Homo sapiens: one gene and its partners. The protein of the gene in region 1 interacts with the protein of each later gene in a pairwise test. Each region holds a gene or a part of one and is shown in the gene's direction. Other genes may lie near its edges.

Region 1 (3,500 bases):
TTGTGACGAAAGTGACAGTCCTTAGACCTAACTCTGAAAAATACCGCCTCTTCTGAGCACTCGCTGTGGCCAGCCTCCATGCTTTAGAGCATTGTCTCTTTTGATCAGCACAGTCCCCCTGCAGGGAGGTATTTTTATACCCTTTACAAATGAGAAGACTGATGGCAGAGAAAATGAGAACCTTCCATGAGGTCCACAGTGGTGGAGCGGCGAAGCCACAATTCAGTCTCCTCTCATTCCAGAGACTCTGCTTGTCGCCATTTTGCTGGACAGCCTGTTGCTCAGGAAATGCCACCTGTTCTTTCCTTCTGTTCCTTTCCTCCCTCTTCCTCATCTTTTCCAAGGCTACTAGAAGGAAAGACATCAGATCCTCAGGGATCATCATCATCATCATCATCATCATCATCATCTTCATCACCACCATAGCCCATATTAATATTTGGCTCTCTACGCCCATCTCTATTCTAAGTGCTTTACATATTTTGACATATTTATTCCTCATAACAACTTGGTAAAGGTACAATCGTTATCTCCATTTTACAGATGAAGACACGGAGGCAAGCGCAGGATAACCGACTTGTCTACGATTACATAGCTAATAAGTAGTTGAGCTGGGATGACAACAAAGGCTTTTTTTTTTTTTTTTTTGAGATGGAGTCTTGCTCTGTCGCCCAGGCTGGAGTGCAGTGGTGCGATCTCTGCTCACTGCAAGCTCCGCCTCCCTGGTTCATGCCATTCTCCTGCCTCAGCCTCCCGAGTAGCTGGGACTACAGGCGCCTGCCACCACGCCTGGCTAATTTTTTATATTTTTAGTAGAGACGGGGTTTCACCGTGTTAGCCAGGATGGTCTCGATGTCCTGACCTCGTGATCCACCCGCCTCGGCCTCCCAAAGTGCTGGGATTACAGGCGTGAGGCACCGCGCCTGGCCAACAAAGGCATTCTTGTCCCACAATCCATGGTCTTAACCAATACTGTTCTAAAAAGTTCCAATTTCAAGCTCTTGGGCTGCCATAGAGAGAAGGTACAGCCCCCTTCACCTACTCTGTTTCCCAATGCTGTGGAAGTTCCTGAAGCAATTTCTCAAAATCAGCATTGACACACAGGGCTCAGGGAGTTTCACAGTGTACAGAGCAGCACGCCGCCCTCCTCCTCGGCCAGGCAGGAGCTCTTGCTAGAAATGCATTTGCATTTCGGAGGCTGAGGCGGGCGGATCACAAGGTCAGGAGTTCGAGACTAGCCTGGCCGATATGGTGAAACCCCATCTCTACTAAAAATACAAAAACTAGCCAGGGGTGGTGGCGCATGCCTGTGGTACCAGCTACTCGGGAGGCTGAGGCAGAAGAATCACTTGAACCCGGGAGGTGGAGGTTGCAGTGAGCCGAGATTGCGCCACTGCACTCCAGCCTGGGTGACAGAGCCAGACTCCGTCTCAAAAAAAAAAAAAAAAAGAAAAAAATGCATTTTACGGTGCAGCATCCACTTTCTTCTCTCCGGTTCAGTGCCTCTTGGGATCAAGGGTCCAGTCATTGGCCTTGGACCAAGAACAAAATGAATAAATGCCTTGGTGTGGGCTCTGTTATTCAAGGCACACTCGCGTCTGGTGTGTGGCATAGCTAGGGGTATGGTTCGCAGCTAGGCCTGGGGCCTGGAGACATAACCTTCCCTGTTCTCTTTGACTTTCCTATCAGAGTACCTATGAGCCACAATGATGATACTATAGGAGTCACTTTGACTCTACTCGAATTACTAAATTCTACTCTAGCATTCTGCTTCTAGAATTACTAGAGAAAATTACTTCACTTTGGGGTTCACTCATGAGCTTTTTCCATCGTGAGCAAACACCATGATGCCTTCCTCTTGCTGGAGCCCTGTGAGGATGAGGAAGCTACGCTGAGACAAAGCCGTGCATGAGAGCTGTGCTGCTCTGCCTGCCACGTGCACACACATTACCAGAGCGTCTCATAAACATGCAGTCTCTGATTCAGTAGGTCTCGGATCTGTCCTGGGTTTCTGAATTTCTAGCCGACCCCAGGGCATACAAGTGCCACTGGCCCACAGACTGTGATTTGTGTAGCAAGGTTCCAAGGTGCTGGTACGCTTAGTAATGTTTGCAATTACTTCGCAGTGTGTTTTCTTTCTAATTACAAAATGTTCTAAACATACATATGATAACAAAGTAATAGAGTAGTCCTAAAGATTGAATAGTTATGTTTGCCTCGGATCTTTCTGTGATGACATAAAATGCAATAGAAGGAGCTGATTCCTGCCCACTCACCCTTTCTCTGTTTCCCAAGGTAGCCACTCTCCTGAAGCTGGGGTGTGCTCCTCCAGTGCATGTTTTAGACTGTGACTACAGATGCGTTCTTTTGTGTTTCAGAAGGACATCTTGCAGTGTGTTCATGCACACACACACACACACACACTTACATGATCTGCAAATTTATCTTCCTTAATTATTCTTAGCACCAAATTGTGTGTGACATGTTTTAACCAATCTGGACTCCCCAGTGTAAAATAAAACTGCCATCTTTAGAGAGGGAAGCATTTCTTGGGCTCATGATAGGATTGGGGGTCCTAGGAATACCCTAGACACACACACACACACACACACACACACACACACACACACACACACAAAATGAGAACCACCATCCTGAATCCTTGGTATCTGGGGTCAGGCTTCAGGGGGACACCTGAGCTGGGTTCTCATGGGGCTGGGTTGCCCCCTTCCTTCCCTGGCTCTGCTTTCTTCTTCTTCCTACTGCCATCCCTTTTCCAGCTTTCCAGCGGCCACCATGACCCCAGGGGGAGGAGAAGGCTTGGCTGTGGGGCTCAGGGTGGGGCACAGAGTCATGGTGAGGATAGGATGCTTCATGATGGTGACTGTGGTCTTTTTCCAGGAGACGACCTCATGCGCTGTGTGGATCTCTACAACCAGGCCCAGTCCAAATGGTTTGAAGAGATGGTGACCACCACATTGGTAAGCGGGCAGGGATGTGTGGACATGGCAGTACAGAGGCTGACACAGAGCAGCCCCTGGTGGTTGTTGGTGGGCGCGGGGATGATGGGGTGGAGTGACCCTGGAGATGGTCATCAAATCTACTTCAGTGTTGGGGTCGAAACCTCAATGTGAGCCAGCTTATGTGGATTCAGATCTCTGCTCCAGCGCTTCCTAGCTGTGTGGATGTGGGCAGGGTTGGGTTGGATATGGCTACATCCTTCTTGGGCTGTCCCCTGAGAGGTCAGGGTCAACTGAGGACTCTCCTCAACTAAGTGGACAAGGGCCTCTTTAGGAAAAATAGCCAAGCTATAGGAAGAGAGGACCGCCCCACACATGCACACACACGAGTTGCAGGTCCTTGGTAGGAGATCCTTGCAAAGTGGATGGATGGGTGAGGATGGAGCTAGGCAGTGGGGTGGGGGAGGCCTCTCACCAAGGGTGAACAACAGGCGGCAGGGCCGATGATGCTCTTGAGTATTTCTTGTAAAGGGGCAGCAT
Region 2 (3,500 bases), on another chromosome or scaffold:
TTTGAGATGGATTTTCACTCTTGTTGCCCAAGCTGGAGAGCAATGGCGTGATCTCGGCTCACTGCAACCTCCACCTCCCGGGTTCAAGCGATTCTCCTGCCTCAGCCTCCGTAGTAGCTGGGAGTACAGGCAGCTGCCACCACATACAGCTAATTTTTTGTATTTTTAGTAGAGACGGGCTCTACTAAATGTTAGCTAGGCTGGGACTTCTGACCTCAGGTGATCCACCTGCCTCAGCCTCTCAAAGTGCTGGGATTACAGGGGTGAGCTGCCGTGCCTGGCTCCAACTTTTCTTCTGCATCTTCCTCACCTCTCTCAGCCTTCATAGAATTGAAGAAAACTTGGGCCTGGTTCTCGATTAGGCTTCAGTTTAAGGGAATGTTGTGGCTGGTTTGATCTAATCAGACCACTCATACTTTCCACATATCACCAATAAGGCTGTTTCACTTTCTTTCCCTCCCTCCCTCTTTTTTTGAGACTATTGCCCAGGTTGGAGTGCAGTGGTATGATCATGGCTCACTGCAACCTCTGCCTCCTGGGTGCAAGCAATTCTCTTGCCTCAACCTCCCGAGTAGCTGGGATAACAGGTGTGCAGCATGTGTCCAGCTAATTTTTGTATTATTAGTAGAGGTAAGGTTTCACCATGTTGACCAGGCTGGTCTCGAACTCCTGACCTCAAGTGATCCGCCCGCCTTGGCCTCCCAAAGTGTTGGGATTACAGGTGTGAGCCAACGGACCTGGCCATTTTCTTATTCATGTGTTCACTGGAGTAGCACTTTTTAATTGCCTTTAAGTTTTCCTTTGTTCTGAGAGGTGATTTAAAATTTCAAAAATTTGTGTATGTATTTTTTTAATTTCAAAAATTGGAAAGAAACTTCTGCTTTGCATTTACAACTTGGCTAACTTGTTTTTTTCTTTTCTTTTCTTTTTTTTTTTTTTTTTGAGATGGAGTCGCTCTGTCGCCCAGGCTAGAGTGCAGTGGCGCGATCTTGGCTCACTGCAACCTCTGCCTCCCGGGTTCAAGTGATTCTCTTGCCTCAGCCTACCAAGTAGTTGGGACTACAGACGTGAGCCACCACGCCCGGCTAATTTTTGTATTTTTAGTAGAGACAGGGTTTCGCCGTATTGGCCAGGCTGGTCTTGAACTCCTGACCTCAAATAATCCACCCACCTTGGCCTCCCAGAGTACTGGGATTACAGGCATGAGCCACCGCACCCAGCCCTTTTTTGTTTTTTTTTAAAGAGATGAAGTCTCCCTATGTTATCCAGGCAGGTCTCAAACTCCTGGCCTCAAGTGGTCCTCCTGCCTCAGCCTCAGGCATGATCCACTGTTCCTGGCCTTGGCTATGTTTTTGAGAGACAGGGTCTCATTCTGTTGCTCAGGTTGGGATGCAGTGGTGAGATCATAGCTCACTGCACTCTTGACCTCTTGGGCTAAAGTGGTTCTCCCACCTCAGCCCCCTGAGTAACTGGGACTACAGGGATGTGCCAGCATGCCCAGCTAATTTTGAAAAAGTTTTGTAGAAGTGAGGTCTCATTATGTTGCCTCGGCTGTCTCTTAAGTTCCTTTCCAGAATGGTGAATCCTTTCAAGCCGCCTTCCTGCCTCGTCCTTCCGAAGTGTTGGGATTACCCATATGAATCACTGTTCCTGACCTGAACATCAAAGATCACTGATCACAGATCCCCGTAACAGACATAATAATGACAAAGTTTGAAATAGTGAAGAATTACCAAAATGTAACACAGACACAAAGTGAGCTCCTGTTTTTGGAAAATTGGCACCAATAGGCTTGCTTTCTTCATACAGGGTTGCCACAGATCTTCAACTTGTGAAAAACATAGTACCTGCTGAGTGCAATAAAGCAAAACACAATAAAAGGTAAAATGAGGTGCTTATAGCCAGGCGCAGTGGCTGACGCCTGTAATCCCAGCACTTTGGGAGGCCGAGGCGGGTGGATCACGAGGTCAGGAGATCGAGACCATCCTGGCTAACACTGTGAAACCCCGTCTCTACTAAATATACAAAGAATTAGCTGGGCGTAGTGGCGGGCACCTGTATTCTCAGCCACTTGGGAGGCTAAGGCAGGAGAATGGCGTGAACCCAGGGGGCGGAGCTTGCAGTGAGCCGAGATCGCGCCACTGCACTCCAGCCTGGGTGACACAGCGAGACTCCATCTCAGAAAAAAAGAAAAAAGAAAAATGAGGTGCTTATAGTCTGTTGAATCTAAAATGCAGCAGTGTGTTATACCACTACAGATGCTCCCAGTGCCTTCTGGCACGCTGCTTTCTTACCCCATCAGTGAAGGATGCTTTTCACTTCAGACATTTAAAAGTGTGCCTTAGAATTGATGAAACATGGTCAGTGAAGTATGACTTGTTTCAAAGATTAACCTTCTGCGCTTATGATCTAAGTGCCAGCAGGTTCTGTGGTAATGATACTGAGTACAATGCATTTTGTTGGGATTCCTGTACTCTATATGTAGTTAACGTTTCTCTGGCAGTAACTTTAGAAAAGTACTACTTGTGAGGCCAGGTGCGGTGGCTCACACCTGTAATCCTAGCGCTTTGGGAGGCCGAGGTGGGTGGATTGCCTGAGGTCAGGAGTTTGAGACCAGCCTGGCCAAGATGGGGCAACCCCTGTCTCTACTAAAAATGCAAAATTAGCTGGGTGTGGTGGCAGGAGCCTGTATCCCCAGCTACTCGGGAGGCTGAGGCAGGAGAATCACTTGAACCAGGAGGTGGAGGTTGCAGTGAGCTGAGATCGCTCCAGTGCACTTCAGGCTGGGCGACAGAGCAAGACTCCATGTCCGAAAAAAGAGAAAAAAAAATACTACTTGTAAATAGCAGAAATAGAAAGGTGCTACTTATGAGAAGTAACATCCTATTTGCGGCTTACACTTTTGTTGCAAATTGTTAAAAGTGTCTGAAACTGTTTAGAAGGACAGCCTGAAACTGCTAAAGTGATGCAAAGTATAGACTCTGGTGGGAGAGGGGGCGTCTTAAATTTTCACGTTTGCTTGGCCTCTGGGGGCCTCTTAACAGCACTTTAAAGGAAATAAATAGATGAAGAAGAGAACAAATTATTTTGAAATACAGTTATTAAAATACTGTATTGAACCAAATTGGTGATAGTCCCATTTATTAGCTTAGTAACCGGATTGAGCTGTGGCTCTGGTAATTCATTTGGGAGTAGTGACGAGATTTTTTGTGACACTCTAATGCTTTGGAAAATACCTGTTGCTGTTCCTGCTAAAACTCCAGGGCTTATTGTCTGCCTTTGTAATTGAAGGAGTGCTACATTTCAGCTAGAAGTTTTTGCCTTTTATCATTCATGTTCACAAATACCAAGTTGATTTACTCTCAGCCTATCCATTTGTAGGAATATATGGTGTCCTTTCTTTACTTCCTCAAATGATTATATTGATGACAAAAGAGACAAGGAAATAAAAACGGCACAGATAGGGGAACCCAAAGCCTAACAGTGTGTGTCCTTGGAGG
Region 3 (3,500 bases), on another chromosome or scaffold:
ATATTCATGTCCCCACATTCACCTCCACATCTATCCTCTCTTTGTTCCTTTCCCTTCCTTCCTTCCCTCCCAAGCTCCATCCATGCATTCACTCACTCTCTCACCCATCAACCATCTTCTGAGGCCTCCCGTCTACTAGGTCCTGGGCTGAGATCCATGCATTCACTCACTCTCTCACCCATCAACCATCTTCTGAGGCCTCCCGTCTACTAGGTCCTGGGCTGAGATCCATGCATTCACTCACTCTCTCACCCATCAACCATCTTCTGAGGCCTCCCGTCTACTAGGTCCTGGGCTGAGATCCAGGGAGAGAGAACAGTCTGACTGGGTCCCTGATGTGAGATCACTCATTGCCTTGGGAAATGGGTCTTGTCCAACAGACATAGATACAGACTGAGACTATTTGGTGTGATTTTAGAGAGGGTCCCACCGGGGCCTGTGAGAGCCCAGAGCACGAGCAACTCACTGTCTTGTAGGACACGGAATGCCTCAGGGAGAAGGGAACTTTGGTGCTAGGTCTTGTAGGATGAAGAGGAGTCTGGGAGGAAGAGAAGGTAGGGAGAGGTCATGAAGGTAGGGAAACATTTTGTGCAAAGGCTGGGAAGCAGGAGAGAGCCTGAAGTGTTCAGCAAAAGTCAAGCAGCTTGGTTCAGGTGACTTTGGGGGGAGTGACGGAAGTAGCTGGGGTGTGATGGCCAGGCGGAGGGCTGGGGCTTCCTCCTGAGGGCAGTGGGGAGCCACAGAAGAGTTCTGAACATGAAAGGGAGAACCACTGATGTGGGTGTCAGAAATACCCCACAGGATAAAAGAGGACAAATAGGGTGCAATGTATGCTGCTTGGGTGATGGGTGTACCAAAATCTCACAAATCACTACCAAACAGCTTACTCATGTAACCAAACACCACCTGTTTCCCAATAACCTGTGGAAATAAAATAAATAAATAAATAAATAAATAAATAAATAAATAAATGAAAAGAAATACTCTGCGGACCAGGCATGGTGGCTCACACCTGTAATCCCAGCACTTTGGGAGGCTGAGGCGGGTGGATCACTTAAGGTCAGGAATTCGAGACCAGCCTGTCCAACATGGCAAAACCCTGTTTCTACTAAAATACAAAAATTAGCCAGGGGTGGTGGCGTGAGCCTGTAGTCCCAGCTACTCGGGAGGCTGAGGCAGAAGAATCGCCTGAACCCAGGAGGTGGAGGTTGTAGTGAGCCGAGATCACGCCACTGCACTCCAGCCTGGGAGACAGAGTGAGAATCTGTCTCAAAAAAAAAAAAAACCAAAAAACCCAGTGGGGACTGTGCTGGGAAGAGGTCAGAAGACCCCAGGAGGAGGCTGGGGCAATGGACCAGGCGGGAAACAATAAGACCCCTAAAGGGAAGGTGGCTTGGGTGAGTCACAGAGCCAATGAGTGAAGAAGGCAGAGGGACATCCTCCCTTCCTCACTCCCTGATGGCCCCTGTCCGTTCCCCCACCCGCCAGGGAGGTGGTGGAGGAGGAGAAGAAGAAGAAAAAGAAAGATGACGATGACCTAGGCATCCCCCCGGAGATTTGGGAGCTCCTGAAAGGGGCAAAGAAGAGCGAGTACGAGAAAATCGCCTTCCAGTATGGCATCACCGACCTCCGGGGCATGCTGAAGCGGCTGAAAAAGGCTAAGGTCGAGGTCAAGAAGAGTGCAGGTCAGCCCTGGTCTGGGGGGAGCTGGGCCCTGCACACAAGGGACCCCTAGCCTTGTGGGTGTCTAATGATTGGACCCTGGACCTATCTTTTCGAGGTCCCAATGAGGTAGGAGGCAAGACCCAACTCTAGCGGTGGGCCTCGGACACCAGACCAAATTGAGGACTAGCTAAAACAGGGACAGGGTGGAAGCAGCTTTCCATAAGACATGCCCACCAGTGTGCCATGTCAGTTTACCATGGCCATGGCAACAGCCAGGAGTTACTGCCCCTTTCCATGGCAATGACCAGACCACCCAAAAGTTACCACCCTTTTCCTAGCAATTTCTGTATAACCTGCTCCTTAATCTCTAGGTAATTAAAAGTGGGTATCAATCTGACTGCAGATCTGCCCTGAGCCGTTGCTCTCTGTCTCTGGGGTAGCCCTGTTCCGCAGGAGCAGTCAGAGGGCTGTAACACTGCCACCTCAATAAAGCTGTTTTCAGGCTGGGTGCAGTGGCTCACGCCTGTAATCTCAGCACTTTGGGAGGCTGAGGTGCGCAGATCACCTGACGTCAGGAGTTCGAGACCAGCCTGGCTAACATGGTGAAACCCCATCTCTACTAAAAATACAAAAGTCAGCCGGGCATGGTGGTGTGCACCTGTAATCCCAGCAACTTGGGAGGCTGAGGCAGGAGAATCGCTTAAGCCAGGGAGGCAGAGGTTGTGGTGAGCTGAGATTACGCTGTGGCACTCCAGCCTGGGGAACAGAGTGAGACTCTGTCTCAAAAAAATAAAATAAAATAAAAAATAAAATAAAATAAAATAAAATAAAATAAATAAATAAAAATAAAGCTGTTTTCTTCTACCTAACACTGGCTTGCCCTTGACTTCTTTCCTGGGTGAAGCCGATAACCCTTGCAGGCTAAGCCCCACTTTGGGGTCCCCTGCCCTGCATCACCACCAGAGAAGTTCTCAAGGATCTCTAAGTTCATAGGAGGCCCCCTGACTTCCTCACTTTGACCTTGGAGAGCCCAGGGCCTGGGGAGGGAGATGTGGTGCCTCTGGGGATGACCAGGGGAATGAGGACCACACGCCTCCATCCCCTTTGCATGCCTCAATCTTCAGCATTCACAAAGAAGCTGGATCCAGCCTACCAAGTGGACAGAGGCAACAAGATCAAGTTGATGGTAGAGATCAGCGACCCAGACCTGACCCTCAAGTGGTTCAAGAACGGCCAGGAGATCAAACCAAGCAGCAAGTATGTGTGGGGTGGGCAGTCCCTGCACCGGGGAGATCCCCGTCCAGAGAGAACGCCCGGAGACAAGGCCTATCACTCTTAACCAGAAAGGGCATATTCACCCCTATATGAAGAGTACAGGCCGGGCACAGTGGCTCACGCCTGTAATCCTAGCACTTTGGGAGGCCGAGGCGGGTGGATCACCTAAGGTCAGGGGTTCGAGACCAGCCTGGCTAACATGGTGAAACCCCATTTCTACTAAAAATACAAAAAATTAGCCGGGTGTGGTGGCACATGTCTGTAGTGCCTGTAATCCCAGCTACTTGGGAGGCTGAGGCAGGAGGATCGCTTGAACCCAGGAGGCAAGAGGTTGCGGTTGCGGTGAGCTGAGATCTCGCCACTGCACTCCAGCCTGGGCGACAGAGTGAGACCCTGTTAACAACAACAACAACAAACACATCACAAGACAACCTTTTTTAAATTAATTACCTAATTTTGTTTTGAGACAGAGTTTCGCTCTTGTTGCCCAGGCTGGAGTGCAATGGCATGATCTCAGTTCACTGCAACCTCTGCCTCCCAGGTTCAAGAGATTCTCCTGC

What was found.
Region 2: the proteins of GAS7 (region 1) and PKNOX1 interact in a two-hybrid assay, tested with the Homo sapiens proteins (one large-scale study listed by BioGRID and IntAct).
Region 3: the proteins of GAS7 (region 1) and MYBPC2 interact in a two-hybrid assay, tested with the Homo sapiens proteins (one large-scale study listed by BioGRID and IntAct).

Annotation. Positions count from the first base shown.
Region 1 is NC_000017.11:9,919,107-9,922,606, reverse strand, and holds part of GAS7 (growth arrest-specific protein 7), read left to right. Parts: intron 1-2,901; coding exon 2,902-2,981; intron 2,982-3,500. UniProt on the Homo sapiens protein: May play a role in promoting maturation and morphological differentiation of cerebellar neurons.
Region 2 is NC_000021.9:42,977,562-42,981,061, forward strand, and holds part of PKNOX1 (homeobox protein PKNOX1), read left to right. Parts: intron 1-3,500. UniProt on the Homo sapiens protein: Activates transcription in the presence of PBX1A and HOXA1.
Region 3 is NC_000019.10:50,439,392-50,442,891, forward strand, and holds part of MYBPC2 (myosin-binding protein C, fast-type), read left to right. Parts: intron 1-1,488; coding exon 1,489-1,685; intron 1,686-2,789; coding exon 2,790-2,922; intron 2,923-3,500. UniProt on the Homo sapiens protein: Thick filament-associated protein located in the crossbridge region of vertebrate striated muscle a bands. In vitro it binds MHC, F-actin and native thin filaments, and modifies the activity of actin-activated myosin ATPase.